Linked DNA regions of Homo sapiens: all the other regions are linked to region 2. The links come from fine-mapping of genetic effects on gene expression. A gene starts in region 2. Each other region holds a variant in brackets. All regions are shown on one strand. Distances are from middle to middle. Region 1 overlaps CAPRIN2 (caprin family member 2). Region 2 holds the start of CAPRIN2 (caprin family member 2). Region 3 has its middle 70 kb from the start of IPO8. Region 4 overlaps LOC105369719 (a long non-coding RNA gene).

Region 1 (4,035 bases), 35 kb before region 2:
CTTCTATGACTCTCTAGCTCCCTGATTCTGCTCCATTTTTCTTTACATCACACAGCACCTGATATACAGGTATTTGTCTCCCTAGCCCTCCTACCTCCATACTAAAATGTTAAGTTTCCTGAGCATACTTTCCTTTTTTCACTGCTACAACCTCAGTGATTAAGAACAGTGCCTGGTTTTGTAACTATTCTTTAATCAATAAATGAGTAAGAACCAATGTGTACCGGGTAGGATTCAAACAGGCAGAGAAAACAGATTGGCATGAGCAAAAGGTACTGTGACAAGAATATATAAGGCAAGCTCAGGGGACTAGTGTGACAGGTTATAACAGACTTGAAAAGGTACTGAGTGTCAGAGTACTAAATTTCATTCTGTAATGGAACACTGCTTGCTTTTAATTAGACAAAAGAAAAGGTAAAACCAATGTGGCTATACTGTGCAGGATGAACTGACAGGAAAAGAGTGAAAGCAAGGAACTATTCTATCTAGAAATAAGATATTCTAAGTGATCAGGTGAGTGAATTCAGCTGTCTGGACTCACCAGCCGATCTCCCGGGGTGGTGCCTGCTTTCCATGCTACTCCACTGGCCCCACTACCACCATCACTCCGAAGTGCTTGGAGTGGGACACTAAGCACCAATAGGAAGGGTACTTATTGGCTCACTAAGGCTTTTTTCCCCCACAAAGAACTGTTTTATACTAGTCTGTGTTTAGAGAATAAACATACCAAACTAGCTGTAATATTATTTTTTTAAAAAGCCTTAATTGCAATTTGTAGAAAAATACGTAATTCAAAACACCACACAAATCTGAACAAATCTCCAAAAACCATCTTGAGATCAGGATAAAATAAAATGAAAGTTTCAGCAATGACAGAACACCCAAGTATGTGTCCGGTATTTCAGGTTACTGATGTTAGGGAATAATACTAGTAAAGATATTAGTAATGGTTAGTATTATTAAGCTGTTGCTAGAAATTCTGTTTCTCACCCACACATTTTGTTTGTTTAATATGGATCCTCAGCTTTGCCTGCTACTAATTCTAAAAGAAGGAATAATGCTCTGATAAAACACCCATTTAAAATTCTAGAGGCTGTGGATTTCCTATTCTTCTGCCACAAACAAGTACTGCCATTGGCCAAATATAATTCTACCAACCCAAATAAATTTTACAAAAGGCAAACTTTTCACATAGTATCCAATAATTATGTAAGAGAAACAATGGCTTTTAACAGGAATAATGAACTGCAATCATCATTCATGTTTCATACTCACTGTCTGCATGGCTTGAAAGGGTGCTGTGTTAATGGTTACTGAACTACTACTTGCTGGAGGTGACTGGAAGCCCTGTTCAGAGCCCTTTGCCATGGGAGGATTTGGAGAAGCTAGTGAAGACGGTTGCTTGCCTGGGGGAATTGCTGCCTGGGGAGGAGAAATGCAGCATCAGCCAATCACCTGCCATATAACAAGCAGTTAACTTACTCTAAAACCCAAACTGGCATAAGTCAGCAAGTTCTTTAGGATGACATTTGGACACAGGAATGCAAAAGAATAGCTTTTGCTTACAATTTCAAATCTCAATTGCTGAGGATGCATACCAGTATTTGCTTTGCACAGCTTGCTGACTAAGTGAAAGAGTCTTACCAATAATCAGTCTAACAGATGAGGGGCTGAACTTTTTATACGCACCTAGTCCTTTTCAAACCCTGAAATGGTAATTTCCAGTTAAGAACCTAATATTATTCAAAATTTATACATCAGAATTGGATTTAAGAAAAAACTTGGATTAGTTGTTTAGTGTTAATTTTTCTCTATTTTAAAGACTTATTAGTTAGTAGGTTTCTAAGTCAGCTACCTAAAACAGAAAACAACTCCGATCCAATTTAAGTAATCCTTACCTAAGGAAGCCACAAGTTCTTGACATAACAGATTATAAATCCAAAGGCTTAAAAAAAATACCAAAAACCAATCTCAACTAGATTGTGAAGCAGACAGCTGTGAGTTACTTGGTAACAATCACTTCTTCCTCTTCTTAAAATGAGGAATGAGATAATTTAAATTCAGATCAAGCCAGCACCATAAAAACTAAGGATTATCTATATTTTCTTATATTCTATAATGAATACATATTCTTCTATAACAGTTAACAAAAAATACCTGATAGTTGCTAAATTACTCCTCAAAATTCATCCTACTATGTCCATCTCAAGGATTTACTCAAACTTAGTAAAAACTGTAACTTAGAATTGAAATTGAAAGCACAAACATAATACTGTTAAAATGT[TTTTA/T]TTTATTTATTTTTTTTGAGATGAAGTATCACTTTGTCACCCAGGCTGAAGTGCAGTGGCACAATCTCTGCAACCCCCGCCTCCTGGGTTCAAGCAATTCTCTGTCCTCGGCCTCCTGAGTACCTGGGACTAGAGGCATGAGCCACCACACCCAGCTAATTTTTGTATTTTTAGTAGAGATGGGGCTTCACCATGTTGGCCAGGCTGGTCTTGAACTCCTGACCTCAAGTGATCCACCTGCCTCGGCCTCCCAAAGTGCTGGGATTGCAGGTGTGAGCCACTGCATCTGACCGAAAATATTTTTGACAAAGTTAGCCAAAACAAGATTGTAACTCATTCCAACTCAATAAGTGCTAATATTAATAAAATAAAGTTATTGAGCTTTCATTTATACAAATAAGAGACTTTTCTCCTAAAAGTCCTTCAGTGTAAATATAGTGGAAAACTTGACTTAATGCTACCTACACTTTTCATTTTTTTAGATTAAAAATGGACATTTATTGCACTAGATAAGGCAATACCATATTAAATCTATTTATATGGCAAAGCTACAATAAAGTTACCTGTAAAAGTTCCAAGATCACAATATCTATAGAAAGCAATACATTAATAAAGTATAAATGTTACATCATTCAACTAATCATGCCTGTAATTCATAAGATAAACTGGTTCTGCTATTCTTTAAGATACAAAAGAAATTAAGACAATTGGTCTTTTACCTCAGGAGTCTCTGAGGTCATAAACTCTGTTTCAGATCCAGAAGAAGCCTGATCGGTAGTAACCAAGCAAGCATTTGAGCTACAAGTAACTGGAGAAGAAGTAGCCTAGACACAGGAAAATACAAAATATTGTAAAAGGCACATTTTGTTCACTTTATATTTCTTGGGCCCTGGCCTTCCTAATATGTTACTCTTACTGAACACGCACATGTGTCAAGCACTCTGCTAAACACTTTATACGTGTTAATATATTTAATCCTAACAGTAATCTGTGAGGTAGGTACTATTCTCATTTTATTGACAATTAAGCAGTGGCAAAGAAAGGTTAAGACATTTGCCCAAGATCATACTACAATTAAGTGGCAGAGCTGAGATTCAAACTCAAGCAGCCAGCTAGCTACACTGCCTGTCCAGGCCTGGTCACCAAAACTACACATCTCATCCCATGTTCACTGATTCTTGGCCCTGTAGTAGATAGCATTCACGGGAAGGTGAGCTCCGGGTACGTTTAACACTGTAGGCACAGCTCTGCCAGAGATCATAGTATAACTGTGCTTTCATGCTAAGTGCTATCAGCATCCTAAAGAGGCAGGCTGAAATATAAATAGGAAGAATAAGCTCTACATAAATCAGAATGGCACCAAAAATTCTAGTGAAAAATCAAGCTGATAGCATATGTAAAATAAAAATTGGGAGAAAGCACATTAGGAAAAAAAGTTGTGACAACTGTAACCAACAGAAAATTAAAAGAGTGGCTAGGAAAGAATTCTATCGCACAACAGGTATTCAAATACAGCAGAGAGACACCCATAAAAATCTGGCAATAGCAAGATCTAAAGTGTCAGTGAATCCACTCCTTTTATCTAAATGCTTCTATGTGGTTCTCAGAAGCCCAAGTAATAAAATAGGTGAACTGGAAACTAATGAAGGGTTACAAAACAGAGAAATCATGTTTCAGTGACCTTCTTGAAGGAGGCATTATGATATGTTGCTTTTTAGGAAGGAGACTGGGGATTGAGTTTTAAGAT
Region 2 (4,035 bases):
CTATGAAGAATATTTTTATTCCGTTGTTTTGACAAATGAAACAGAAAATGTTTAATATTTCCAACACGTAACCTGCTTGTTTAAAGCAGCTAAACCTAAGGTTAGTTAAATTTTTAGTAGAGAACACCTATGAGCTCTGAAAGAAAAATGTCAGCTCCTTAATCTTTAAGATCATGCATCTACAGGACTGGAAGAAAAAAAGTTACCTTCTTTTTCTCGATGTTTCTAATTTTGTGTTTAAGGCATATGAGTCCATTTTCAATATAGGTCTCATACGCTTGGGAAGGAGATGCAGCAGAACTCAGAGTAGACTGCAGGGGGCTCAAGGCCCGCTGGCTTTCCCCATGCTGACTGTGGTTCACTTGGGGCTTGGCTGACTTCATATTCCCCTCTCTTTCCTCCTCTGAATGGCCTGAAGGTGACTGGTAACCAAAAGGGGATGAAAAGAGTTGCACCATTGAAACAGATGAGGCTGAAGGAGGTGGGGGAAAGTTAAGTATAAAATTAGGACTAGAGGGACACAGCCAGGCAATAACTTCCCTGGAAAGTCTAGACCACTCCCTTAAACTCTTTTCCACAGAAGTGAGCTCGAAACCCAATGATGCTTGAGATACTTGTACTTCCATCCTACTTTTAAAGTAATTAGTGCCGCTAGCCAATAAGGATAGCCTTTACATAGGCAAAATCTCCCAATACGGAGGATGTTTCCAGAAATTCGATTTTCCACATAGGGAGGAAGAACTGCAACGGCTTCAGAGCTCCTTTCTTCTCATGAGGGCAGATCACATTCTAAATAATTCCCATGGCCACGTGATGACACCAAAAGAATAAGCTTTCCACACCGGGACCTAAGGCTGAGCCACTCAAACCTCTTTACATGATCCCTCACCACCAGCCCTAACCTCAATCCTGAACGTTTGGAAGAAAATCCAAACTCACAACATTCTTTTATAGCTCTAAGTGAACCAGCAGCTTCTTGAACAAGAATGCTAACTTCCCCGATTGCTCTGGGGCCTACAAGGCAATCCATCACTACTGGACATTTGCAGACAGGTACTCTCTCAACCTGCAGGAACCCCGCGTTTATTCTCAGTTGTTTGGTTTAGACTAGCCCAAAACCGCTTACACCCAACCAGTTTAAGAGCTCATTCTAGCGAGCCCTTCCCGTGCCCTAATCAGTGGCCCTTGCGCACTTACGTATCCGTCTCTCGACCTCCAAGCACCCGAGGTATCCCTTTCTCCCCCCTTAGGAGCATCCCCAAACCAAGGACAGAACAGGCCCCATGCACGCCAGCGCGCACCCCCTCAAGTCTCCGGGGGAGCCTGAGCGAAGAGCACCTCTCCCGAGCGGCCACGGAGAGCCCTGCAGGCACCGACCCCCACCCTTCCCACAGCCGCCCCGGGTACGCAGAAGCCGCTTCTGCAAGGCCCCGGGGGAGGCTGACCTGCGGAAAACGCACCGACCGCGGCCCTCGGGAGCCCCGCCCCGCCCCGGGGATGCCAAGCCGCCCCTCCACCTCGCAGCGGCGCCGGCCGCCCAGACCTGCCCACCCTCGCCGGGTCAGCCGCCTCCCTCCGCCGCGCCGACCGAGGCCGCCGCAGCCCGACTTCACCTCCCCAGGCAGCCGAGGCCGCCGCTGCCGCAGCCCGGGCCCGCCTTCCAAAGCCTGGGGGAGGCAGGAGCGCTGCGGAGGTGGACCGGCGCCACCCCGCACTCGCGTCTCCTCCTCCTGTCTCCTCCCTCTCCCCTCCCGGTCCTCGCCCGCGGCCTCTGCGGCGCCAGAGACCCAGCCGACTCAGCCGCTCGCGCCCAGGCCCGCCCACCGCGCCGCGCGTGGCTTTTGTAGGCCGCGCCCCGCCCCGGCCCGCTCCGCCCTCGGCCGCCCCGCCACCGCCTCCTTCCGGTGCTCCTTCCCGGCTGCAGCTGGCCGCCAGCGCTTGTCGGGTGTTAGTTCCGGGCCCAGCTTGGGCTGGTGGTAGGTCGGGAGAGGGCGCGGTCTCCCAGCCTTTGCGCAGATTGCGGGGCACCAGGTGGGGCCGAGGCGACGCCGAACGCCGGCAGGCCGGAAACCGCGCAGCCCCGCTGGACCTCGCTGATTGCCGGCGGCACCGGTGGTTTCGCGACCTTGAACAGGTGACTCCAATAGCTCCAGGAGGGCAGCGAGCCCTTCGCGGAACTACCAGATAAGCCATGCTTGAGGCTGTCGTAGCCTAGTGGGTAGTCGTGAAATGCAGATGCGCCTTTGCCCCTCAGATAGCATCTTTCATAGTAGGATGGGGAAAAAACACCGTTTCCTTACCGGGGAATCAGCCTGTAAGAGCAGAATGCCCCAAATCAGCATCGCCATAAAAACGGAGTAGGTGACTTCGCAACCTGCAATAATAGGATTGAGTTTATTCAAGCCGTATTATTTGTTCATGTGACACACATTAATTGACTGGCACGCAGAGAAAGCTGTAAAAAATCTTTGTAAGGTTACATAAAATTAAGAGAAAAGTCTGGAAATATGTAAAAGTTTATTGAGGAAAGGAAGGTGTTTCTGATACCAAATAAGAAACACACACACACACTCAGCAATACTTTGCCCCAACATGTGTTTACTTATTACACCAAGTGGAGTTTTTTAGGTCCTGATTGTCCCTGACGCTCTGATAAAAAATATTGAGACTAGCAAAAGAACAGAAAATTCAGAAGAAGAATCAAGGAAACAAAGGTCTAGTTTTAAAAGCCTTGGTCAACTTCACACAAATTAATTTTAACATTACTTAATACATTTTTTTGGCATCTATTATCCGTGTTCTTTTCGGTCCCTGGTGACATAATGTACCCTAATGTTGCATTTTAACTTTGAATCTCTGAATCCCATATGTGTTCTTCAGGGTCAGAGAAATACTAGATTTTCCCTTTTTCTCATTGTTTATAAACAGAGAAACGCAGAAGATGCTGAACATGAGGAGAGGAAGGCTATGCCTTCACCTTTGGTAACACAAAAAACAGTGGCCATAAGAAAAAATGTGAAGGACACACTGTTGGATCAATGAGTTGACACAAAGTTACAGCACAGCCTGAGTTGTAGTCCGAGCTAATGATGAACCTAAAAATGGTATTTCAGTCAGATTAATCATGAAATGTTTGCCCCCTGCCGGCGCAGTGGCTCAAGCCTGTGATCCCAGCACTTTGGGAGGCCGAGGCGGGGTGGATCACCTGAGGTCGGGAGTTCGAGGCCAGGCTGGCCAGCGTGGTGAATATCCATCTCTACTAAAAATACAAAAATTAGCCGAGCATGGCGGCATGTGCCTGTAATCATGGCTACTCAGAGGCTAAGGCAGGAGAATCGCTTGAAACCCGGAGACGGACGCTGCAGTGAGCCGAGATTGTGCCGCTGCACTCCAGCCTGGGTGACAGAGCAAGACTCTATCTCAAAAAAAGAAAGAAAGAAAGAAATGTTTGCCTTCTAATCGGTCAGGCAAAAAGGAGGCCGTAAATTTTAAATTTTCTACTAAATGGATATTCTTCTAAATGAATAAATCCATACAGATTTACTTCTCAGGAAGGATTATAAAAATGCATCACGAAAGAATGCAAAAGCAAAAATAATTGAATTTCAAGTCCAGTAGGGTACAGTCTGTATACGTATGGCGTGACATTTGTAGGAGAACATACCACAGTAGATACTCTTGAAGCAATGTCTTCTGAACAAGTTAAAAAGATGATTCAGATAAAAGCTTTTCTGCTAGAGGAGATCTTTAAAGTCAGTAAGTCTGGCTTACTTTGAAAGCACATGTCCCCAAAACTTTTATTTGTCAGGAGTTTAGTTTATTTTACCCTCTCCCACTCCCTATTTTCTGTAAGACCGTGACTTTTCTTGCCAACTGTGAGGCAGTATCTGTGGCATGCCACCTCCAAGCTTAGCAAGGAATAACTATATTGGAAATATGATAAAAAGTGTTGTCTCGAATCATTGATAGAAGAATATATTCATTTATTCATTCAACAGATGTTTACTTAGCACTTGCTATGTAGTAGGTGATAAG
Region 3 (4,035 bases), 130 kb before region 2:
GGATTTTCTGATCATGCTTAGGAAACAAGCCTCAAAATCACTTAATATTTGTAAAACATAATCTTGATTTAGAAATTTAAATGTCCAGCCCAAAATATTAATCAATACTTCAGTCTTCAAAGATGAGAATTCTCCTGCATCTGTCCTCCACCAGTCTGTATATTTACTTTCTATTGTTGCTGTAACAAATTACCACTAACGTAATGGCTTACAACCTACAAATGTATCGTCTTACAGTTCTAGAGGTCAGCAGTCCTAGATGGGTCTCACTGGGCTAAAATGAAGGTGTTGGTAGGTCGACATTTCATCCTGGAGACTCTAGGAGACTGTTTCCTTGCCTTTTCCAGCTTCTAAAGGCTGCCTGCATTTGTTGGCTCACCGTGCCCTTCCTCCGTCTTCAAAATCAGCAATAATGGACTCAGTCCTCAAATCTTGTCACTCCAGCCTTCTCTTCTGCCTCCCTCTCCCACTTTTAAGAAACTCCATGATTACATTGGGTGCATGTAGATAACCCAGGATACTCTCCCTGTTTTAAGATCAGCTGATTAGCAAACTGAATTCTATCTGGAATCTTAATTCCCCTTTGCCATGTAAAGTTACATTTTTACAGTTTCCAAGGATTAGGACGTAGACATCTTTGCGTGTTTGGGGGTCGTGGTTCGGGAGTCACTATTCTGCTTACCGCAGCCTATAATACAGCAGCCAATCACAGGACAACCACTGGTGAGGATTAACACAGTGTGGTGGGATCATGAAACAGCAGAAAGGGAAGTAGCACCACCTGGCAGTGGTGGCTAGTTAAGATTATTCCCTATTTATTAAACCTATGTTGAAAGAAGAGGCTAAAAGCCTAACAAGTGGAGTTATACTGAAAAAGTAAACGATCTGCTTATTTATTTCTGCCTTCAGAGAATCACTTGACTATACTGCCCAGCCACAACCCCATTAATGGTACTTGTGGTACCAAATGTAAAGAGTCTAAAACTTCACTCATTGGAAATATGGTGCCTCACAGCAAAGGTTTCAAATGCAACCCATTTAACTACCAAAATGAAAATTGGTCTTATTCCCCCGAAGTACACAACACCCTCATGAAGAAATAAACACTTCTTGCTGGTACCTATTGATGTTAAATTTCTTGTTTTATTTGAAAATGCTACCAATCCTGACACCACCCAGCTGAGGGTTGTCTGACAGCAGCAGCTGCAAGGAGCTAAAAATTATGAAATTAAATTTGTAGTTTTGATTACTGCGATTGGCCAACACTGGGTTATCTGGTTTGGAAATCTGTGTGTAATACATACATACAACAAATTCTTTATTTTGAAAAAAGTACATAATTTGTATTAATAAAAAAATCAGCTTCTTGCTAAATAGCAACACAAAAGCATATGAAAGTATAAATCTCACTGCTAAGGGTAAATACATAGACAAATACAGAATAATGTAATATTGTAATGGTGGTGCATAAATCACTTTTAACCCCAGCATAAAAGACAAAAGTATTAAGAATATAACCACAAAATATTGGTTAATGGATACACAACATAAAAAGCAAATTCTGACATCAATAACAAACTGGGGAATGGGAGAGTAAAAGTGTAGTTTTTGTATGTGATTGAAGTTATCAGCTCAAAATAGACTGGTACAATTCTAAGGAGGGTTATGCAAGCTTCACAGTAACTACAAAGAAAAAATCTTCAGCAGATACAAGAAAGGGAAAAGAATCCGAGTATATAACCATAAAAAATTATCAAATCACAAAGACAGCAAGAGGGGAAGAGAGGAACAAAAGAACCACAAAACAGAAACCAATGAACAAAATGGCAGTAGTCAGTTCTTACCAATCAATAATTTCTTTAAATGTAAATGTATTAAATTCCCCAATCAAAGATACAGAGTAGCTGAATGGATTAAAAAGCAAGATCTAATTATAGGGTGTCTACAAAAGACTCACTTTAGCTTTAAGGACACACGTAGGCTGAAAGTGAAGGGATGAAACAAGATATATCATGCAAATGGTCACCAAAACAGAGCGTAAGCAGCTTTTCTTATATTAGACAAAAAGACTTCAAGTCAAAAACTGTCACAAGAGACAAAGAAGGTCATTACATAATGATAAAAGGGTCAATTCAACAGGAAGACGTAACAATTATATATGCACCCAACATCAGAGCGCCTATATATATAAAGCACACATTGATAAATA[T/C]GAAGGGAGAAATAGGAGTAGAATGTATTAGGAGACTTCAATACCCCACTTTCAATAATAGTTCATCCAGACATTAGAGAAATAAAGAAACAGTGGTTTTGAATAACACTATAGGCCAAATGGAGCTAACAGACATGTACGGAACCTTCTACCTAACGGCAGCAGAATAAAAATTCCTCTCAACTGCACATGAAAGATTCTCCAAGATAGATTACATGCAAGGTCACAAAACAAGTTCTGACAAATTTAAGAAGACTGAAATAATTTCAATTATCTTTTTTGACTACAAAGAAATGAAACTAGAAATCAATAAAAGAAAACTGGAAAAATTCACAAATACATGGAAACTAAACAATATATTCAACCATTGGGTCAAAGAAGAAATTTTAAAAATTAGAAGATATTGTGAGACAAACAAAAACATAACATGCCAAAACTTATGGGAGGCGGCAAAAGCAGTGCTGAAATGGAAGTGTATAAATGTCTACATTAAAAAAGTGTATAAATGTCTACATTAAAAAAGATCTCAAACAACCTAACATCATACCTGAAGGAACTAGAAAAAGAAATAAGCCCAAAACTAGCAGAAAGAAGGAAATAATAAAGACTAGAGCAGAAATAAATGAAGACCAGAAAACAAAAGAAAAATCGACAAACTGAAAAGTTTTTTAAAAAAGATAATCAAAATCAACAAACCCTTAACTAAACTAGGAAAAAATAAGATAAAATCAGAAATAGGAGATATAACCAATGCCAAAGAAATTTTTAAAAGGAACTAATATGAACAATTACATGTTAACACATTGGACAACCTAGAAGAAATGAGTAAATTCCTAGAAACATACAAGCTACCAAGATTGAATCAAGAAGAAATAGAAAGCCTGAACAGATCAATAACAAATAAGGAGACTGAATCAGTAATTTAAAACTTTCAATCAAAGAAAAGCCCAGGGACCAATTGGAAGAAGAAACCACTGAATTGGAGGCAGTGAAAAAAGGCAACTGGAGCGTACTTTCCAAGAAGTTGCACACAGTGAGATAGCTGAGGAAGGGCCAAATTACTTAGGGTGGCCAGGTGGCCTCACACTTCCAATTCCAGCTCTTTGTGAGGCCAGGGTGGAAAGATAGTTCAAGGCCAGGAGTTCGAGACAAGCCTGGGCAACATATTGAGTCCCTGTCTCTACAAAAAATTTAAAAAATAGCCAAGCATGGTGGTGCTTGCCTGTACTCCCAGCTACTCAGGAAGCTAATGTAGAATCACTCACTTGACCCCATGAAATCAAGCTGCAGTGAATTGTGATCGCACCATTGCATTCCAGCCTGGGCAACAAAGTGAGACAGCCATAGTTGCCCTTTGTGCTTCTTCCTCAAACATAGTCTATCTACAGAGTATAAGCCATCTCTTTATTTATTGATTTTGCAGCCTTTCTTGCTAGCAGACTGCCTAGAAATTTCCCAATCCACCCAGGCAGCATTTGTACAGCAGTCTCAACGGAGAGAGTAAGGTGGAACAGAAAAGACTGCTATTTAAGGCTCATCTGGAATAATTTTTAATGCACGAAACATTCATGCATACACACACTTGCACGCACATGGTCCTAATACATGGCCAAGTTTCCCTTTTATGCCTGGATTATTCAGTCTCCCTTGCTAAACAGAAAACTGTACTATAATTCATTATATTACTTAATGACAATTTAAAATAACTGTTTTCCTATCGCAAGAACAAAAAACCAAACACCGCATATTCTCACTCATAGCTGGGAATTGAACAATGAGATCACATGGACACAGGAAGGGGAATATCACACTCTGGACTGTGGTGG
Region 4 (4,035 bases), 170 kb before region 2:
CACATTGACCAGATATTGGTTATGGGCTAACCCCAATAAAGGATCTAACTTTGGGCAAGGCAGCTCCCTTTGGTCAAGAACAATGTCCAGAGAGGGACACACCTGACAGCCACCAGGAGCCAGCTCTCCCAGAGGCTGAAGGAGTGAGCACTTCAGTTCTGAACAGGAAATCTGGGTGGCGCATGAGGCATCCATGACACTGTCTGGTACCAAGGTCAGTTCAGCTACTTACTCGCTATGAGATCTTGGTTAGTTTCTTAATCCTTCTGTGCCTCAATTTCCTCAACCTTAAAGTGGGAATAATAATGCACTTACCTCAAACAATTGTTATGAGAATTGGATGAGTTAAAACTGCTAGAAACACACCTGACACAGAGTCAAAACTTCATAAGAATAGAAGGTCGAAACCTCACGACAACCCAAGTCTTCTGATTTCCAGTCCTGTGCCATTTCTTCAAGTCATTCATTTCATCAAGGCTCCTCCATTCTCATTCTGTTTCCAGTGTATGTAGTACATGAGCATTGTGTGCTGCAATGTGCTACCCATAACTATGTTGCACCTTTACAAAAGTATGTATTAATTTCGTATGACCAAAACAAGGGTATTTAACAAAACAACCTGGAAATTTCAGTGGTTTGCAGCCATCTATTACTCACTCACTTACTGACTTGTAGGTTTGGCTAATCTGGGCTAGGCTTGGCTGGGCCTGACTCCTAACTCCATGGCTGGGCCCAGGCCTTTCCACGTCTCTTGTCTTTCTTAGATTAGCAGTACTCACAGCATATTCTGTTCATAGTGAAAGACAAGAGCTCAAGAGACCACACCTAAATATGCAAGCACATTCTAAGCTTCTGCTCACATCTGTGGTCATCCCATTGGCTAAGGCAATCCAGGTGGCTAAGCCCAAAGTCAAGCACGTGCACCAAGGAGAGAAGGTACCCATAGAGGTTGAGGCAAGGGAAGGACTGGAAATTTGCTGAAAAATAATCTTCCATACAGCCTGATGAACAAAGATTTTGTAATAGAAAAGAAGATACTCATGACCAGAATCTTAAGAAGAAAAAAAGCTGCAGGTGAAAGCCTTTACTAAATACTTATTACTAGTATGTCTAGGCAGATCCTTCTAGCCTCTGTCTGACTCAGTCTCCTCATTTGCAAAACAGTTATAATGCTCCCCTTCTATTTAATTCATAGAAATGGGATATCATCATTCTCATCCACGCATCATACTTTTTTGTGGAATACTGCAGCAAGTCTTTGTAATAAGTTGGCATTCTCTGCCATCTAGCATGCTTATAATTCTTTATTGAGCATTCCAGCATGGGACTGATCCCCCAGAACTGTCATAAAAAGGCATGAGAATTGCAGAATTACTTCAGTAGATAGGAGTGGCTAGAATCTAATGTGCTATAGATTTTTTAAGCATTGGGTCTTCATCTCATAGACTTCTATCTACCCTGACAGCACTTGAGTATATATAAGCCCTCCATAAAATCTAGTTGAATTTTCTGTTTTCAAGGTCAGTTAAATAGAGGATGGTACCAACACTGCTGAGACACCAATCAGACAATGCGCTCTGCTAAAAGCCTAATGCAAGCCTCTTTGCCTGTGGTAGTTACTAAATACCCAGCTCAGCACTTTTGCTCCTTAATTCCAAAACCTTCTATTTGGGTACTACCTAGCAGCATCAAATTGTTTAAAATAAAATAAAAGAATGATGGCTCAGCAAACTGTAGCTTTTGGTCCAAAAATTTATATTTCTAATTCATTTAGTTACAGCAAGACAGATGCCAAACTTTTATGGCTTTTTAGTCTAATCAAATTTGTGTACACAAAGATGAAATCCTCCTCTCTCTACTTGCCAGGAATGAGGCATAATCTTTATTCTAATAAAAGCTTTATTGCTACAAGTATCACCTAGTTCTTTAAAGACCCTCTGAAATCATTTTGATCTCAGGAACACTTTTTCATACCTCTTCCAGATTGATCTTATAAAAGTACCATAGGCAGATAAATGAGGGTGGAGCCAAGATGGCCAAATAGGAACAGCTCCGATCTACAGCTCCCAGCGTGAGCGACGCAGAAGATGGGTGATTTCTGCATTTCCATCTGAGGTACCAGGTTCATCTCACTAGGGAGTGCCAGACAGTGGGTGCAGGACAGTGGGTGCAGCGCACCGTGCGTGAGCCGAAGCAGGATGAGGCATTGCCTCACTCGGGAAGTTCAAGGGGTCAGGGAGTTCCCTTTCCTAGTCAAAGAAAGGGGTGACAGACTGCACCTGGAAAATCGGGTCACTCCCACCCTAATACTGCGCTTTTCCAACGGGCTTAAAAAACGGCACAC[T/C]AGGAGATTATATCCCGCACATGGCACAGAGGGTCCTACGCCCACGGAGTCTCCCTAATTGCTAGCATAGCAGTCTGAGATCAAACTGCAAAGCGGCAGCCAGGCTGGGGGAGGGGCGCCCGCCATTGCCCAGGCTTGCTTAGGTAAACAAAGCAGCCGGGAAGCTCGAACTGGGTGGAGCCCACCATAGCTCAAGGAGGCCTGCCTGCCTCTGTAGGCTCCACCTCTGGGGGCAGCGCACAGACAAACAAAAAGACAGCAGTAACCTCTGCAGACTTAAATGTCCCTGTCTGACAGCTTTGAAGAGAGCAGTGGTTCTCCCAGCATGCAGCTGGAGATCTGAGAACGGGCAGACTGCCTCCTCAAGTGGGTCCCTGACCCCTGACCCCTAAGCAGCCTAACTGGGAGGCACCCCCCAGTAGGGGCAGACTGACACTTCACACGGCCGGGTACTCCTCTGAGACAAAACTTCCAGAGGAACGATCAGACAGCAGCATTTGCGGTTCACGAAAAACCACTGTTCTGCAAACACCGCTGCTGATACCCAGGCAAACAGGGTCTGGAGTGGACCTCTAGCAAACTCCAACAGACCTGCAGCTAAGGGTCCTGTCTCTTAGAAGGAAAACTAACAAACAGAAAGGACATCCACACCAAAAACCCATCTGTATGTCACCATCATCAAAGACCAAAAGTAGATAAAACCACAAAGATGGGGAAAAAACAGAGCAGAAAAACAGGAAACCCTAGAAAGCAGAGCACCTCTCTTCCTCCAAAGGAACACAGCTCCTCACCAGTAACAGAACAAAGCTGGACGGAGAATGACTTTGACGAGTTGAGAGAAGAAGGCTTCAGACGATCAAACTACTCTGAGCTACAGGAGGAAATTCAAACCAATGGCAAAGAAGTTAAAAACTTTGAAAAAAAATTAGACGAATGGATAACTAGAATAACCAATGCAGAGAAGTCCTTAAAGGAGCTGATGGAGCTGAAAGCCAAGGTTCGAGAACTATGTGACGAATGCACAAGCCTCAGGAGCTGATGCGATCAACTGGAAGAAAGGGTATCAGTGATGGAAGACAAAATGAATGAAATGAAAGGAGAAGGGAAGTTTAGAGAAAAGAGAATAAAAAGAAATGAGCAAAGCCTCCAAGAAATATGGGACTATGTGAAAAGACCAAATCTACGTCTCATTGGTGTACCTGAAAGTGATGGGGAGAATGGAACCAAGTTGGAAAACACTCTGCAGGATATTATGCAGGAGAACTTCCCCAATCTAGCAAGGCAGGCCAACATTCAGATTCAGGAAATACAGAGAACGCCACAAAGATACTCCTCGAGAAGAGCAACTCCCAGACACATAATTGTCAGATTCACCAAAGTTGAAATGAAGGAAAAAATGTTAAGGGCAGCCAGAGAGAAAGGTCGGGTTACCCACAAAGGGAAGCCCATCAGACTAACAGCAGATCTCTCGGCAGAAACTCTATAAGCCAGAAGAGAGTGGGGGCCAATATTCAACATTCTTAAAGAAAAGAATTTTCAACCCAGAATTTCATATCCAGCCAAACTAAGCTTCATAAGTGAAGGAGAAATAAAATACTTTACAGACAAGCAAATGCTGAGAGATTTTGTCACCACCAGGCCTGCCCTAAAAGAGCTCCTGAAGGAAGCACTAAACATGGAAAGGAACAACT

What was found. PIP is the estimated chance that this variant, and not a neighbour inherited with it, causes the effect. A credible set is the group of variants that fine-mapping cannot tell apart.
Region 1: its variant is the best candidate, but not a certain one, in a credible set for the expression of CAPRIN2 in whole blood (INTERVAL, PIP 0.79).
Region 3: its variant is the best candidate, but not a certain one, in a credible set for the expression of CAPRIN2 in whole blood (TOPMed, PIP 0.71).
Region 4: its variant is the best candidate, but not a certain one, in a credible set for the expression of CAPRIN2 in whole blood (TOPMed, PIP 0.64).

What each region holds. Positions count from the first base shown.
Region 1 is chr12:30,717,804-30,721,838 of GRCh38, forward strand. CAPRIN2 (caprin family member 2) reads right to left here. Exons shown (of 19, transcript NM_001385503.1): 13 at 3,008-3,112; 14 at 1,276-1,422. Among named protein-coding and RNA genes, the nearest start is that of IPO8, 24 kb to the left of the region's middle. The variant TTTTA/T (reference allele first, on the strand shown) is at 2,285.
Region 2 is chr12:30,753,138-30,757,172 of GRCh38, forward strand. CAPRIN2 (caprin family member 2) reads right to left here and starts at 1,814. Exons shown (of 19, transcript NM_001385503.1): 1 at 1,614-1,814; 2 at 207-422. The coding sequence starts at 383. It overlaps LOC645485 (a long non-coding RNA gene), which reads left to right and starts at 1,937. Exons shown (of 2, transcript NR_135046.1): 1 at 1,937-2,134. RefSeq lists enhancers at 1,188-1,267, 1,271-1,440 and silencers at 1,368-2,047, 3,139-3,342.
Region 3 is chr12:30,623,454-30,627,488 of GRCh38, forward strand. No RefSeq gene overlaps it. Among named protein-coding and RNA genes, the nearest start is that of IPO8, 70 kb to the right of the region's middle. The variant T/C (reference allele first, on the strand shown) is at 2,210.
Region 4 is chr12:30,586,337-30,590,371 of GRCh38, forward strand. All of the region lies in intron 1 of LOC105369719 (a long non-coding RNA gene), which reads right to left. Among named protein-coding and RNA genes, the nearest start is that of IPO8, 110 kb to the right of the region's middle. The variant T/C (reference allele first, on the strand shown) is at 2,345.